Homo sapiens: one gene and its partners. The protein of the gene in region 1 interacts with the protein of each later gene in a pairwise test. Each region holds a gene or a part of one and is shown in the gene's direction. Other genes may lie near its edges.

Region 1 (4,557 bases):
CTACTCTTTCAATTGAATTCACATTATAATGTTGATATTTTCATTAATCTTTCAAATATTTTTAAATTCTGTTTAACATTAGTTATTTTTCTAAGTATAATACCAGTTTTCCTAGATGGCTATTGGGGGATTGTTTCAAGTTTCTCTATTCCTTTAAGAACAATTCTTGTTGTAAAGCAATATTTTTTTTTTGTTAAGTGGAGAACATTTGCAGGAAAAATATATTTTAAAGTCAATGAAAATAATCATGTGCAGAGTTCTTATGTATGCAAGCAATTATAACAGAATAATTTTGCCTGATAACATTCATGGCAACTACCAATAATTTTTACAAAACAAGGAAAAGAACTTCAGAAAAAATAAAACATTATTAAACGTTCATTAATCAGTGATTGAAGTATTTCTCCCCTCCCCCATAAATTCTATCATCACATCATCCAGCCTTAACAAATTTTGGCTTTGCACATTGGCATGATTATTGTATTTCTGTTTTTCACCAAGAGACAAGTTTTTAATATAATAGAATCCCTAAATATCAGGTTTCATTTTACAATCAATGCTTTTAACCAGGTTGCAGTTGTAATGCAGTTTAAATTGCCCGTGCAATGTGTATTGTATCATAGCTTCATATTTGCCTTTCTTTAATTGAGTTATATGCAATGTTGGTGCTACATTTGTTACTAAAGAATGTTTTCTAACAGCTTACTGTACTTGATGTTATAAGAAAAATAATTTTGTATACAGAAAGCCAAGGAAAAAAACAGGGTATAATTTTAATATTAATGAAATAAATATTTTTAACTGTCTTGTTTTCAACCCCGTGCTTTTTTTTTTTTTTTTTTTTTTTTTTAGTACAGACAGGGTTTCACCATGTTGGCCAGGATGGTCTTGATCTCTTGACCTCGTGATCCGCCCACCTCGGCCTCCCAAAGTGCTGGGATTACAGGCGTGAGCCACAGCGCCCAGCCCCCATGCTTTTTTCTTAAGTAAAAACCCAATGCTTTATAAAATCTAGAGAGGGAATATACCTATGTGTGGATGACACTGAATCATTGAGAAAAATGCAAAAGGACTGTCTGTCAAATGCCAAACAAGGCAACTGAACACAAAATAAATTGCAATGAGAGGCTGGTGTGACTTACTAATGGATCACACAGGCTGAAATAAGTGAATGTGGTTTATTTGTTTTAAATCAGCATCAGGTGTTTTGTTTTTCATTTCTTAGTGGTGTATTAAATAATAATATGTTTTAAAATTAGTATTTTCTTGCATTTGATGAAATACAGGCTATATGCTATTGTAAAGAAATGAGAGGAAGACAATTAAAAGGTAACAATGAACTTATTATAATGTGCACAGTCGACTGATTAATCACTAGATTTTCCATCCTTTCATCCTCATTAGGAATTCTATGGATAGGTAATAAGCTAGCTGCATGACAACTAAATTGCGCAGAATCTGACATAATTACATGAGTTTCAGGAGGCTTAATTCTGATTTTGAGAAAGATGTGGCTAGACACATGCATTAAAATTACCTTCAGGGATCTCAAATTCTTCAGAGGTAATAAACATTGGTTAACATCATAATATGGAAATTATTTTCCTCTGGGCCAAGGCAACCAAATCCATATATATATATATGTGTGTATATATGTATATGTATATGTGTATATATACATATATGTACACACATATATATACATATATATACACATATATATACACATATATATACACACATATATACATATATACACATATATACACATATATATACATATATACATATACACACATATATACATATATATACACACATATATACATATATATACATATATATATACCCAAATCAGATCTATCTATATCTATCTATCTTAGATTCCCATCCTTCCGATCCAAATGCATATGCCAAAATGTATTTTAATATTTTGTGTTAAGAGGATGTTTCCTATGTACTTCTAAACATATTCCAAAACATGTAGCATAAAATAAACCTAGAATTTTAGAATTGGAAAGCAACTGAATGATTGTTAGAGTTTCTTCAAGATCTAAATTCTATTGTCTTACATTTTATTCATTTCATTCAGTGAGTGGACTTAGAAACTGAAGCCCAGAATAATTAATTTATTCATTCCATGTTACACAGTTCAATGGTAGCACAACTAGAGTCTTTTGGCTTCAGGTTCAGTGTTCTTTCTATTAGCTCAAATTGTCCTATAATATACTAAAGACACAATAGGGTAATTAGTGTAGTGTATGGTATGATATGCCTCCTACTTTTCCCTTTCTCTGCCTCAAACAAATACACTTTCAAGACTGAAGTCTTAATTTTTCCTGTTGCTGAGAGTGTTGGCAACTGATAGCTCTCAAGTAAATTTCTCTCCAATAATTTCTCTGCTTAAAAAAAAAAAGCAAAACCAAAAAAACCTACTCATCCAATACTATAGCCCTTCCCAGGGCCTGCCAATGTCCAATAACTGGATGATGGGATATAAGACTCCCACCGACTTGCCTGAATTGGAGACCACTATTAAGAACCATCCCAAATTCAGACCTCCCTATGTGATCAGTCGAGATAGTGTAATTGCACAGAATTTAATTTCTCACTCTGCCTGACTCTGCTTTCTTCATTCTCTATAGTTGTTGGCCTAAGAACACTCCCCAATACATTTCACAAACATCTGTCTCACAGTCTGTGTTCTGTGGAACCAAACTACAACAATAAATATAAAATTACTTGAATTTTCTAGAGAAAGTGACTTTCTTTTTAAAATAGAGATAAAAGTGTTCCAAGTGATTAGGTTCTAAAAGATGAAATAAATACCTCTCAAAGTAGTTTCAAGGTCTGTTAGTTACATTATATTGTTACTGTGATGATGATGATTATTGTTGTGATTAAGGTAACTACATTCCAGGTAATTAGGCATTTTATAATCAAGGAGGTCATTAAATATTTGTAATAATCCTTTATGAAGATATGGATATAAATATAAAACTTCATTTCTCAGATGAGGAAATTGGCAGCTTAGGAAGCTTAGGTAACTTGCCATGTTCACTAAACTAGAAAGTGTCTGACTTGAAGCTGACTTAAGGTAGCATTTGGGTCTTATATGAACAGCCCTATTTCACATGATGTATGCAGCACCTTGTCCTCAGTGTGGCCAATAAATATTTATCACAAGAATAAATGAATTCATATATATCTGACCCTACCCATATGATTAACCCCTGCACAATGCAATCTCCTATGTCCACTATGAGCTTTGGAGATAATAGTAAATATCACAGAGAACTTAAAAAAAAAAAAAAAAAAAAAAAACCAAGGGCAAAAAAACTAACATGTCAAAAACAAACTATGCTAAATAAACATAAATGGTTGATTTAAATGTGTATTTTCCTTTAAAAATTGAGAGTAAGAAGCCCCATCTTGCTTCTTTTGATAGTAGATCCACATGTGCCTTCTAAGTACCAGATACTGTACCAGAGAAGGGGTGCTGAGGCTGCCTGTGTGACTGAATTATTTGATCCTTTTCAATATGTCTTTTTAAAACTGTATATTCAATTTAATATAATATGCCAGGAGAATTAAAATGATCACATAAAGAAAACAATGAATATTCCCTCAAAGGTAATATTAAAATAGTGGAAATGAAGTCTACTCCTACCATTTCTACTTTCCTAGGCAGCATCTGTTGAAATAGAAATGAAAAAGAAATGTAACCACTGGTGTTATCATTATGGACTTATTAATGTTGCATTCATCCCCAATTTTTTCCACAATATTTCATAAGCAGCACCCATGATATGTCTAACATTTGGCCACAGATATTGAGCACAAGGTTGATTTGGGGGTTGGTTGGTAACAATTAAATAAACATATAAGTTTACAGGGATGGAGGAAAAAGAAAAGATCACATTTCTAATAGGTCCATAGCCTAGAGTATTGGGAAAGAGCCAAGAAGAAGAAAGTGAGCTAGACAAGTTCCCAAATGACGAAAATGGAATCAAAATAGTTTATTCCTTTTACTCCTAAAAAGTCTGAGGCATCTCTTGTGAGTCTTACAATGTTTCCTTTCTACACCAAATTACCAACCTACCTATGTCTACTCCAAATCTAAGGAAAAGTTAAAACAGCATATTAGAATTCACAGAGGGGGGTCTGCTGTAAGTAGCTTATCACAAAAATATAAATAAGTAAAGATGACATCACAAACATCAAGACAATAAAAAGGAAAGATGACATCACAGACATCAAGACAATAAAAAGGAAAGGCCTGAGTAGCAAAATCCTTCCCTCTGAAATCACTGAGTTTAAGGACGCCTAGTGGGTCTTTGTTTTGTAGAAAAGAAAAGGAGGGAGACTTATTTCAATAATAATCATTTTGAGGCATCAGCTCATATTACAATGTTTTTCTGCACGTAATTAATTTTAGAAAAATGTGATGAAGTTTTGAAAAATTCCTATGGAAATACTCGAGGAAGAAGGAACTGGTAGATAATCAAGCAGACGGCCTGTCCTACACTAGCTTAGGATAAAATCAAACTCTGTGCT
Region 2 (4,557 bases), on another chromosome or scaffold:
CCGCGTTGTTCTCTTTCATATTTTTTCCTGAGGATTGTTGAAAACTTTGTCTAAAGGACATATGGGAATTACCATGGGCTTGCCCTATTGTGTGTATTTGGACATGTTATGTAGATTTCCATTCCTTGTATTAGAAAATTCTAATAAAGATTCTCTGTCTGAGTCTGATGGTCCTAGTGGTATTCAGCACGAAGTGAGCTGTACTGTCTGGGATGAATTGAATTAGCGATTGTTCAGTGTCTGCCAACCCCAGTTTTTGGGTGCAGCGACTCTGGATTCGTAATCTTGTTCATTGCTCTGTCTCCTCCTTTAAGTGCAGTGTCTGGCATATAGTAGCGCTCAGTAAATACTTACGAACGAATGTATCATCAGGTGTTTAGAGTCTGTGCTGAGACTCAGGGTGAATACGCCACACCACGAAGAGATATTTCTAAGGAATGTCCATATTCTGACTGGAGTTGCTGTTGGAGCCACGGTAGAGCCATGTGGTGGTGAAAGGATTCTGGCTCTGCTGGTAAGGACTGGAGTTGTTTGACTTGGAGAAGGGAAGACTTATGGAGCTATGACAATTTTTCTTTTCTAATATTAGAAGGGTTGCGTAGAGAGGCACAAGTCTATCATCACTATTGGAAAACATTCTTAGAAATTATGCCCTGTTCTCCTGGTAGGGAGTCAATAGCTATTATAATTGTATTGCTTTTGCTTCATCTTTTATGCTAGGAAGTTACTATAGCTGTAAAAACAAAACAAAACAAAACAAAAAAACAAAAAACAAAAACGAGGCAGGTAGAATTTGGGAGAGAAATGTGAGGATGTTTAAGAATTTAAAGGATGTTTTTTGGGAAAGCTACCATACTTGCCCATTTTTTTTTTTTTATGGCAGAGGAGAGAAACTAAACTATATGTTGCATCATAGGCTAATTTTTGGCTCAATATCAACAAGGATGTTTCTCTTTTATATAGGTTAATATTACCTGCTTTAAAGCAGTCAAAAATGCATTTTAATATAATAGTTTCTTTAACAAGTTGTTTGCCTTTGGCAAAATATCCTATTTTATGCTTATTACCCACATCTTAAATTTCTTCACTTGGATAAACAAATCTGGATTTAGTCAATGACTTGTGGTTTATAACAGCCATATCACTTTTATATAAAAGATAATAGCTAAAGTCAGGCAGGTTTCAAACAAGATGCTACTTGGTTGCAGTGACCATGCCCTACATGTTGATTGTTAACTGACAAATTAGCCCTTTAAGACCACATAGTCCTTTAACCTTAAAAAATGATCTAGGCCATCTAAGTTTTTATTTTCTCATTTATAAAATGAGGAGGACAAGCATAAAAATATCCGCAAGAAATGTACTTTCACCTGTGGCTGCATGAAGAGTTTGGTGAATCCTTTCCACACACAAGTATAAAAATGGCAGAATTGCCCAAAACTATTTGAACTCTGGAAATCAACCAAAAGCAAAGAAAATCATTGAGAAACATTTATTCTTAGGAAAACTGTTAGATCTTCAGGTAAGAATAGTGCAAGTCTACAGCATTCTCGCGTGGGCTTCTACTGTGACCTCCTGTCCCAGCACTTTTGGCAAGAATTGTAGTTTGGAAAACCAGCAGCTTCGCTGTCAGACAGCTGATTCAATTTGGGGCAATGAGTAAAAACCTTTGTCGATAAAATGTACTGAACTTGGTAGGGGAAAACAAGGAAAAACCATGTATTTGCTAGTTTAAGGTTGTAGTGCCAGTTGGGGTGAGTGGAAGAGTAGCTATAAATTAAAAGGCAGACCCTGGAAATGAGAGAACCATAAAGGGATAACCTCTTCACATATCCTGGCATAACGTGAAACTATGCACATGTGTAGGGGAGACCTGAGGTTGTCTAACTGAGAGCAAGGGCCAAGGCAGATGAGAATTCTTTAAGCTTTGAATGTGCCCTTCTTAACCCAGATACAGATTAAAGAGCAGGCTCAAGCTGTTTGAGCATATCTTTGGCATGTACATAGCTGAAAACTAAGATATTCAGACACAGAATGACTTCTCTAGAAAGCCAGGCTAAAACATATATATGTGAATTAAAATCTGAACAGATGTAGTCACACTGCCCAGGACACAGATTCCACAGTTTAGGGCCAGACATGTTAAAAGGCTCAGAAATATAAAATTCTACACTGGTGGCCAGGTGCGGTGGCTCACGCCTGTAATCCCAGCTTGAACCCGTGGGTGGAGGTTGCAGTGAGCCGAGATCACACCGCTGCACTCCAGCCTGGCAACAGAGTGAGACTCTGTCTCAAAAAAAAAAAAAAAAAAAGAATATACACTGGCTATGTTATCCAAAATGTCCAGTTTTTAACAACAAATTTTAAGACACGTAAAGAGACAGAAAAATGTGACCCATGCTGAGGGAAAAAGAAAGCAGTTAATAGAAACTGACTGTGAGTGAGCCTAGATATTAGACTTAGCAAAGACTTCAAACTGCTATTATAAACATGGTAAAAGAAAGGAAACATTATTTAAATAATTACAGGAGAATATGATGACATTGACCCAACAAATTGGAAATCTCAATAAAGAAATGAGAGCTGTAAAAAAAGTTTTATTCTTTTTGATGCTATTATAAATGGAAGTGCTTTCTTAATTTCATCTTCAGATGATTCATTGCTAGTATATAAAAATATTTGCTTATTAGCTCTAAAATTAATTTTTGTGTTTATTCTCTGGGATTTTCTCTATATAAGACCATGACATCTGTGAATAGAGGATGTTTTAATTCCAGCTCCCCAATCTGGATGCCTTTTGTTTATATTCCATGTCTAATTGCCCTAGCCAGAATCTCCAGTACAATGTTGCATAGAAGTCATGATGCAGAAATCCTTGTTTTGTTTCTGATTTTGGGGAAAAACTTTTAGACTTTTACCATTAAGTATAATGATAACTAGGGGTTATTGGTAGATGCTCTTTCTCAGGTTGAGGAAGTGTTCTTTTATTCCTATATTTCTGAATGTTTTAATCAAGAAAGGGTATTAGATTTTGTCCAGTGCTTTTTCCTGAATCAGTTGAGATGATCATGTGTTTTGTTTTTGCTTTTTACCTTTATTCTATTAATATGGTGTGTTACATGGGTTTTTTTCATATGTTGAACCATCCTTGCATTCCTGGGATAAATCCTACTTGGTCATGGTGTATAACCCTTCTACTATACTGTGGATTTAGTTTCCTTATATTTTATTGAAGATTTTCACATCGGTATTCATAAGGGACATTGGTCTGTAGTTTTTTGAGATTTCTTTGCCTGGCTTTGGTATCAGGATATGCTGGCCTTATAGCATGAGTTGGGAAGTAGTATCCCATCCTCTCATTTTTGGAAGAATTTAAGATAGATTGGTGTTCATTCTTATTGAAGCATATTACTGGTGAGGCCATCTGGTCCTTGTCTTTTCTTTGTTGTAAGTTTTTTGTTTTTTATTACATATTCCATCTTTTTACGTGCTGTACATCTACTCAGATTTTCTATTTCCTTTGAGTCAGTTTTTATAGTTTATATTCTAGGAATTTGTCATCTATTTCATCAATTTGGTAGCATACAATTATAGTATTCTCTTATAATTGTGTACTTTTTGTAAGGTTGATATTAATGTTCCCATTTTTATACATGATTTTAAAATTTGAGTCTTCTCTCTTTATTCTTAGTCTAGCCAATTTTGTGTGTGTGTGTGTGTGTGTGTGTGTGCAGGGTCTCTGTCACCCAGGCTTGAGTGCAGTGGTGTGATCATAGCTTATAGCTATGTAAATGGAAGTGCAGCCTTAAACTCCTGGGCTCAAGTGACTTTCCCTCTTGTCAGCCTCCTGAGTAGCTGGGTGCACAGGCATGCTGGCGCATGCCTGGTTAATTTCTTAAATAATTTTTGTAGAGACAGGGTCTTGCTATGTTTTCCAGGCTGGTCTCAAACTCCTGGCTTCAAGCAGTCCTCCCACTTTGGCTTCCCAAAGTGCTGGGATTATAGGTGTCAACCATTGTGCTCGGCCTCATCATTTTAAAGAATAAACTTTTGGTTTTGTTGATCATCTATTATTTTTCTAGTCTATATTTCATTTGTATTAGCTGTATTTTTTCCCCCTTGTTTCTGCTTAGTTTGTATTGAGTTTTCTTTTTATAGTTTCTTGAGGTAGAAGTTTAGGTTGCCAATTCAAGATCTTTCTTCTTTTTAAATGTAGTTACTTGTTTCTGTATCCCATAGATTTTGCTATATGTGTTTGTTTTCATTAATTTCAAATTATTTTCTAGTTTTCTTTATGAGTTCTTCTTACTTGTTGATTGTTAAATTTTCATGTATTTGTGAAATTTCCAGATTTCCTCCTGTTAGTGATTTCCCCTCCTCTTTCCTCACCTCCCTTCTCCTCTTCTCTTTTCTTTCATTTTTTGAAACAGAGTCTCACTGTATCACCCAGGCTGGAGTGCAGTGGTGTGATCATGGCTCACTGCAACTTCTGCCTTCTGGGCTCAAGCAATCCTCCCACCTCAGCCTCTCTAGTACCTTGGATTAAAGGTGCACATG
Region 3 (4,557 bases), on another chromosome or scaffold:
GTGATCTCACACATCTCTTACTCTGTCACTGTTGACTTCATGGTCTCTCTGGCCACAAAGGAGATCTGCAGTCTGAATTACTGGAAACAGTTGCAGAACCATGTGGATTTATGCCACTATCAAGTCAGCATTTCTAGCATTAGCTCCCATTACTATTTCCCTTAGTGAGTTTTACCTCTCCTTTCAGTAATCAACCATTGCCATTTCCCACTATCTACTACCCCCTTCACTTATTTTCGTGTGTGACACTTTCTAAAAAATGTAGAAATTGCATTATACTTTATCTAAAGCAGATATGGGAGGCCAAGACACAGGTCCTATGTTTGCCTGTTTCAGCTCATCATAGGGGTTATTTTCTAACCATCAGATTAAACCTGCATTTTTAAGGTTAAAATACAAAGTAAAGTGCACAGGTCGTTCCTACAGTACATAGAGTAATCTTTCTTCACTCCCAAGATAACCATTTTAAAATCCTCTATGTTGGAGTATTTGTCTTTATAACTTGAAATCATGTGCTTATTTTTCTGTTTATCTTGATTTACTCAACTTTAAGCAAAGATATTTTTATTTTTATTTTTTGTTCTTTTAAAAAAATTACTTTAACATTCTTGAACTTTTGTTTCTGAATGTATTAGGTTATATCTTTTTTTTTTTTTTTTTTTTTTTGAGAACGGAGTCTCGCTTTGTTGCCAAGGCTGGAGTGCAGCGGCACGATCTCAGCTCACTGCAACCTCTGCCTCCCAGGTTCAAGCGATTCTCCTGCATCAGCCTCCTGAGTAGCTGGGATTACAGGCACATGCCACCACACCTGGCTAATTTTTGTATTTTTAGTAGAGACGGGGTTTCACCATGTTGGCCATGCTGGTCTTGAACGCCTGACTTCAGGTGATCTGCCTGCCTTGGCCTGCCAAAGTGCTGGGATTACAGGCATGAGCCACCATGTCTGGCCAGTATTAGACTATATCTTAACTCGCTGTTCTCTCCCTTTCTTCCCCACCACACTCCCACTCCGCTTTCCTTTTCTGAGCCCTCTACTAGCTGTGTGAGCTCTCTGTTGGTTGGTTCTAAAAATGGAAAAGTAGTCAAACAGCATTTGTAACAATGCACATATATGTGTTATTTACTGTGTAATCACAGAGGAGATGCTGGACTTTCAGATGGGTCTTTATATTTGTGCCATTCAACAAATGTGTTTTGAGAATTTTGTTCTTTAACTGTAATTTACTCAAAATCATACTGGGTTTTTAAATATTTCGTATTGTAGCTGACTGTACGCTGCTTTCTTTTCCTAGCATTTCTGTTTCCCCTTCTTTCTTTTGAGTAGAAGAAACCTACACCTTTCTTTGCTCTCGGATCTTCTAGCTTCTTCTTCACACTCTTTGTGGGATGCCCTGATGGGCTTCGAGGGCTGCTGCATTGTTGTCGCCCTCGAATTTCTCTCCATTTTACTCTTGGGTTAGTTCTGCCTGTTCCTCACCCCACGTTGTTGTCTGTCTTTGTTCCTTGTTTGTTTTGCTTTAGTACTTTAATTTATTCAGAAGTGGTGCATGAAAGTTTAATTTGGCATCCTTGTATGGTTTACACATTCAGCTGACAATCCGTCTTCTAAGAGTTATCAAAATAACGACCTCCAAAAGTCATCAACACTTTGGGTCTGCTGGTGTCCACCAGCCCTTGTTGGCTTTTATGAATATTTCATTTATGCCTCTTTACACGACTTTGTCCACTGACTTGAACTGGAAGCCCTTCTCCACTCTTGCATGCCTTCACAGAGAAAATCAAGGCCATTTGTTTTAAGCTTCTTTGATTTCTTTTCTCATCTTTTGTTATTACTCTCCTATTATTACCTCTATTTGTAGCCATTCCTCCTTTTTGTCCCAGTGGTAAAAGTGCAAATTCCTGTCCGTGGCTAATTTTGTCCATCTGTGCTTTGGATCTCATTTCTTCCAACCCTTAAATCTTTATTTCTCCTGTATTTCAGCCTTTTACTATATATGCGTTAATATTTATGTATAATGTTTATGTATTACACATTATATGTTATGTGTTATACAGGTATACTTTGATATTTCTGTATTACATGTTATCCATATAAATATATGTAATACTTATGTGGTACATATTACATACTTTAAAGCTTCTTGAAAGCGTGTCCCCATTTATTGTTAGCATTTTGACTGCATGCACACGCCCCAGACACTTTAGCCTGGGCTCTGTCCCCTGCTTATGCCGCTAAAACTGCTCACTGGTGATCTCAGTGCTGTCAAATCCTGTGGATGCCGTTCTGTCCTAATTTTACTTGAAGCATTCAACACTGACCGTTTTTTTTTTTTAATGCCCTCTTTTCTCTCCTTCTCTGATGCTGTTTCATGGCTGCTCCCAACTTTCTTTCCATTCCTCTTAGTCATCTTGTTGGGTCTTCATCTGCTCACCCTTTCGATATTGGTTTTACTCAGAGTTCTGTCCTTGATTTTCTGATCTTAATCACAGCCATAGTTTCATCCACCCCTGGGTGTGGATGTCTTTCAAATCTTAATCTCTAGACCACCCTTTCCCCCCTCAAAAGACCTGGTGCTCGTGCTTGGATGTCTCACTGATGTCTCAGACATAAGTTGTGCCTGCCGTGTGATAGATACTCAATATGGATTTGAATGAATGCGTGTCTTGAATATAGGAATTGAATGGCTCTCAATTTCTACTGTGTGTGTGTGTGTGTGTGTAGCTTTAATAAGCTGCTGAATTATTGCTGAATTATGCTTATTCAGAGTTTGTTTTACAAGGTCATTACCTCTCTTCCTTTTTTCTGTTGTCATTTTAGTAGGTCATTGTACTTTTGTCATAGGAAAGAAGGAGAAGAAAAAAGTTTGTCTGTTTTTGTTGCTGTTTCTTTTTTTTGAGACAGAGTCTCACTCTGTCGCCCAGGCTGTAGTGCAGTGGTGCTATCAAGGCTCACAGCAATCTCTGCTTCCTGGGTTCCAGTGATTCTTGTGCCTTAGCCTCCTGCGTAGCTGGGATTACAGGTGCATGCCACCACACCCAGCTAATTTTTTTATTTTTTCTTTAGTAGAGACAGGGTTTTACCATCTTGGCCAGGCTGGTCTCGAACTCATGGCCTCAAGTGATCCACCTGCCTTGGCCTCCTAAAGTGCTGGGATTACAGGAATGAGCCACTGCACCCAACCATTGTTGCTGTTTCTGAATAGCTGTTATTGAAATGTGGGGGGAGGAGGTCCAAATGGATTCTCAAAGTGAAGTATATGTTACCTGTGGATTTAATTTAGCTGTGCATTCCCAGTCCTTTACTGTCATGGATAATAGACATGAATTGTGTATATATATATTTTGCCATGGATAGTATTTTTCTTTTCGGAGAAGGAGGGGTTTGATTTGGGCAAAGTGTTTATGGGAAAGAGACAGCTGGTGAAGTGTGAGTGTGTGGAAATACATGAGAAACGCCTGATCTCTCCATGTCATCTGCGTTGGTAGAGCCCTGTGCTTGCCAGGTGTTGTGGTGACAGGTGCAAAACAAGGGTGCCCAATTTAGAGGTAAATGCTAAAAGGCCAGTGTCATTTGCGGGTGAATTATTTAATTACAGACAAAGGGTATCAGTTAAACATTTTACAGAGTGCTGTCAGAAATAAAATAGCTTTTAATTTCATGTAAAGTGTTGTAAATGTTCTCATCCATTCTCATGCAGTAGAAAAAATGAAGAACCTAGAGAAAGAATTGGCTGCCGTAAAAAAAATTCTCAAGTGATATTTTTGGGTTTTTTAATAGTGCTTGCTCCCAAAACACACCCTGCCCCCCAACACCAACTAACAGTCTACAGCTTAGAAACGAGCAATGGATAGGGTCAAGAGACCTGGGATCTGCTGTTCCACCTCCTGTACCACACTTTTTTTAGTTGTAAGGGGAAGATTATATGTATTTCCTTCAGTAACGCTAAGAGGAGGAAACAAAATATTCTGAGGTCATTAGAAAGGGAGCATAAGTATTCCCCCTTTTTATTAGAAAGTTGATTGATTATGGCTGAACTAACCACCATTATCAACTGAGATGAGTAAGTTTTGAGGCTTGAAATAGAAATGGTTTGAAATGCAAATTTTTATGTGCAGCTACTGTTTTGACAACCATATCATTCCTCCTTCTTTTTTGTAGGCTTTAGAATCCAAATTAGCAGCTTGCAGGAATTTTGCAAAGGACCAAGCATCACGAAAATCCTATATTTCAGGGAATGTTAACTGTGGGGTGCTGAATGGCAATGGCACAAAGTTCTCTCGATCAGGGCATACATCTTTCTTCGACAAAGGGTAAGTCCTGAATGTTTTAAGTGATAATTTTTTGAGTAGTAAAGTGACAGGTTAGTAAGTGAGCATAATGAAGCCTTGAAAAGGTAAACTCAGCTTGACAAACCTTCCCGAAGCCTGTTATCATTCTAATCTTAGGTGACATGACGTCTGTTGTTGTCCTCTAGTCCCCATGGAGTCTGTTGCCCCAGGAACCCTGAATCTGAGGCTTCTGTCCTGGGAAGCAGACTCTTGAAAGGCAGCAGTGTG
Region 4 (4,203 bases), on another chromosome or scaffold:
AAAGTAATGTACATATGGCTGGATTTTTTTGCTTGCTATTCGTTTTTGTGTCACTTGGCATGAGATGTTTATTTTGGACTATTGTATATAATGTATTGTAATATTTGAAGCACAAATGTAATACAGTTTTATTGTGTTACCATTTGTGTTCCATTTGCTTCTTTGTATTGTTGCATTTAGTACAATCAGTGTTTAAACTTACTGTATATTTATGCTTTCTGTATTTACCAGCTATTTTAAATGAGCTGTAACTTTCTAGTAAAGAATTGAAAAGCAAATCTCACTAATGATACACAGATAGATAAAGCAAGTCTATCAACATTAAAAATACTAAAAAATAAAGACACACACAGAGCATTTTAGTGACATCCACTACTTATTGCCGCTATGAGTTAGAGTCTATCAGTGTTCTTGTTATAACCCCCTATTTTCAGGGGGTTAAAAATCAGCTTTAAAAAAATACATAAAAATTTCATCTTAAAGCACTTTCATTTTATACCAACGTGAAAAGTGCCATTTTTAGAATAACTTTAAAGCTTAACAGGTTTCCTTTTAATATCCTTTTTTTGTGTGCTCTTTACTTACACAATGGCTTTGTTTTGCTTTTTCAGCCACACCCCTTATGTGAACTAGTGCCTTTGGGTATCACGTAAAATTTTTTCCAAAGGGTTACTTTAAAAATCTGTTACCACAATTATGAGATGATTTTTAAGTGATAAATTAAACTTCTTCTTGTATAAATTCTGCCCAGATCTCTCCACAAGAGCTGAGGGTTTCATAACTTTATGGCTTAATAAATGTATGACACTGAAAAGATTTGAGTGTGAATCTACTGAAATCACTATAATGCACATTGAAGCTATGATGGTATTTGAGTAGTGAGGTTACTTTTGATCGGAGCAACATAATGCTCATAGAATCTTCTAGAAGAAGAGAAACAAAGGGATTGATAAAATGCTGAGAACTAGTGATTATATATTTTTCTGTATTTACCTGACATTTATTTTAATGTTCAAAAAGTAAACACTTTAAGTTTGATGTGTTTTACTCTCTCATTGTTTTAAGTAATTGCCAACTCAGAATACATCATTCTTAGGCTGAAATTTGTCTTTCCATTTTTTAAGGTGAAATAGTACTACCTTACGTGATAGCATACAAAGAAGAAAGCTCTAGAAAGAGAAATTATGGAGAATGATTATTTAAATTACAATTAAGGAAATGAGAATATGATCCCCTCTTCCGAGTTGCCCACAAACTTGCTTCTTTGCTTTTGCTCCCTGTAATAGAACTACTTTTCAACAAATCTAATTTTGCACGGCACCGTTAACCATATTTTCACTACAGCAAACTTAGTGCTATGGGTTTTCTTTTTCTTTGTTTTTTTCTTGATCACTTGTATAGGAAACAATATTTTCCAGTGTTATTTGCATATATATTTTGTCCTTCCAATATATGCATTACAGATGAAAATTAAATGTTATACCTGAATTCTTGGGTTGGGGCCAAAATATTAAGCTGAAAATAATGCTGGTGTGGATTTGTTTTAAAACAAAGCTTTATTATGAACATGCATGTGAATCTGGATATTGCCTCTTATTTTTAAGAAAATGGTTCTGTGAAAAGTGAATGATATGTATTTTTCCAAATGCTTCATGGTTAGGAGTCTTCAAGTTCCATGTTCCCCAGATTTGAGATATACTAAAGAAAGAAATTCAAAAGTAGCTATTTGGGGCCCACAAAAATAACTATTATTTTAGCCTTAGAGCCTTACACTTGTTTCATGAAGAGAAAGGACTTGCATAACCAAAATAAACAAAGCAAGACAAATTAAAAATATGTGGGGGAGAGATCAGTGAAAAGTGGTTTTCTTAATGCAGCCCTGCTGGTCCCCATTAACAATTGCTTGAAATTCACATGGATGTAAAATTATAATTGTCAGGATCTTATTCAGATGATCTTTTAAGGTTTAACTGGTTTTGCTTTTGTTTATCTATATGTCAAAATACTTGTAAATTGGGAACAAACTTCTCTCAGCTTCTTGAAGTTGTTCAACTATCCTTGCCACTGGAAGACCAAACAAGGTTTTCACTGCTTTTTCTTTTACATAATATGCTGAGAATTATTTCTTATGCTTTTTACTACAAACAAAATTACTCACCTGGATTAAAGATTAAGGCCTTAATCTGTTTAGATTATCTTTAATCTCCATGAAATCGTGAAATAAGACAAGAATAGTGTTTCAGCTGTAGGCCATTTTACAGCTAATTGCCCATAAATTGTAGCATTTATTGACCTGAAGTACTAAGCTAATTGTCTTGACTACTCAAAGCCCCTGAATTGTTGTCAACTTTCCCCTTTGTGTTGTGTAGCCCTAACGTCATTTAGCTTGTTGTCTGATGCCTCCAGTAGGACACCTCCGATGGAGCTTTGATTTCTGAGCAGCGAAAGCTCCCTTCCTAAGATGCATCTCGCATAGGCTGCCTATGATGAAGGACCGTGCACCTCCACTCCAACAGAGTGCTGAGTTTAAAAGTTGACCTGTGTTTGTAATTTCACTTTCATCTTGCTTAATAAATATCTGCTGGATTCTTTCATTCACTTTTTTACATTTGGATTTATGTTTTTAATAAAAGGGGTGTTACACTATTTGATTGCACTTAATTGGCAAAATTTAAGATGATCTCTAGAAAGCATATGTTAAGTCCATGAAAAGAAAAAAAAGGTGTGTAAGGACATTTACTTTCTAAAGCTAAGTCATAACAAGCATAGACAAAGCACCCCAAATGTTTCTCTGAATGTAATGTTTAGGATCTCTGCGCTAGGTCGTTTACCGCTATTTATTTTTATGGGGAAAATAAAACTCTCAAAAATGAAGGTAGCAATTGCTGGGTGTAATTTTGCACATTTATACAAATTTTAGGTGATCTTTCTGAAAGCAACTCTGTTGCTGTTGTCAGATTAAATTTCAAATTTTCTATTCTGTATAATGAATTAAAACAGGAAACTCAATTCTACATTTTTACAGAAGAGATGTTGCACCTTAACTGAAACAGGGCACTGAAAATTATATCTGTAGTAAAACATGCCATGCAAAAGTGTTTTCCTTTTAACTATCACTTTAGGCAAACCACTCTCTGAATCATCACTTAAACAGTTTCGTAGAAATTATGTAGGCCAAACATGTTTAGTGTTCACTTCAGTAAGTTGCAAAAACAATCTGCATGTTTATTGTAATAGGCCATTAGCACAAAATACAATTTTAGCAAAAGCCTTTTTGATCATTACTTTTTCTTAAAAACATTGTTATATTTTTTAAATGTGGTTTTAATGTAATTTAAGGTAATAGAAAGCAGAGATTTAATAGTCATTAGTTTAATTGACATTTATTGCGCACCTACTATGTGACAGGCCTCTCCCTGAGCATTCAGCCTCCTGTTGGGCAGACTTAGGGTTGGCCTAGATCAAATAACTTTAACATGTCTTTGCACTGGTTTGTGCTCATCTCCAACCTGCTAATAATGAGCACACAAAAGCGAATAGCATCTTCTACCTCTCCAGCATGTTATTGATATGAAAGCCCCAGAAAATATCTCAAGTAATCAATGTGTTCAGAGAATTATCGCACACAAATTACTCATTAACTCAATAGCACATGATAAAAAAGAACATCAATTAATTAATGAGTCACCCTCAGATTGCTATGATTACAATAGAGCTCTGTTGAAATAGCGGTTATAAATGAAGCTGCCTCTCTTTATTCGTTGTTTGCAACTGGTCCATTATTTGGCTGAAACCAGTGTCAAGTTTAACACATGCCTGTAGGTAATTGTGTGATTAGTATCATAAACGAAGATTTCAGAATGCCTAGGGTTTATAAAACCTTATGAATGGCCAGAAAAATGAAGAAAATTCATTTTTACTAGAGCTTCCTTTGAGGCCATGCTATTAGAAAAGTATTATTCAGAAAGGTATATTTTTACTTTTATAATCAAGATGTAAGACTTTCGTGTTGAACAGTACAAAGAATAGCTGCTAAAACACTTGAGTCAATTTTACAACGCTTTAGTATACACACGATTTAATTTCAGTAACTTTTCCTGAAGACTAAAATATGCATGATCATTGCCAGTTTTGCATTTTGGTACCACAAAATGACATTTTTTTGCTTTTGGCAGGCTTGGTTGGGGTGGGTTTGTGGATAAT

The links.
Region 2: the proteins of CCSER1 (region 1) and FBXL17 interact in a two-hybrid assay, tested with the Homo sapiens proteins (one large-scale study listed by BioGRID).
Region 3: the proteins of CCSER1 (region 1) and NDEL1 interact in binary tests that used the Homo sapiens proteins (3 or more experiments, as listed by UniProt).
Region 4: the proteins of CCSER1 (region 1) and LMO3 interact in binary tests that used the Homo sapiens proteins (3 or more experiments, as listed by UniProt).

What each region holds. Positions count from the first base shown.
Region 1 is NC_000004.12:91,592,644-91,597,200, forward strand, and holds part of CCSER1 (serine-rich coiled-coil domain-containing protein 1), read left to right. Parts: intron 1-4,557.
Region 2 is NC_000005.10:108,374,542-108,379,098, reverse strand, and holds part of FBXL17 (F-box/LRR-repeat protein 17), read left to right. Parts: intron 1-4,557. UniProt on the Homo sapiens protein: Substrate-recognition component of the SCF(FBXL17) E3 ubiquitin ligase complex, a key component of a quality control pathway required to ensure functional dimerization of BTB domain-containing proteins (dimerization quality control, DQC).
Region 3 is NC_000017.11:8,455,850-8,460,406, forward strand, and holds part of NDEL1 (nuclear distribution protein nudE-like 1), read left to right. Parts: intron 1-4,159; coding exon 4,160-4,311; intron 4,312-4,557. UniProt on the Homo sapiens protein: Required for organization of the cellular microtubule array and microtubule anchoring at the centrosome. May regulate microtubule organization at least in part by targeting the microtubule severing protein KATNA1 to the centrosome.
Region 4 is NC_000012.12:16,546,815-16,551,017, reverse strand, and holds the end of LMO3 (LIM domain only protein 3), read left to right. Parts: 3' UTR 1-2,646; downstream 2,647-4,203.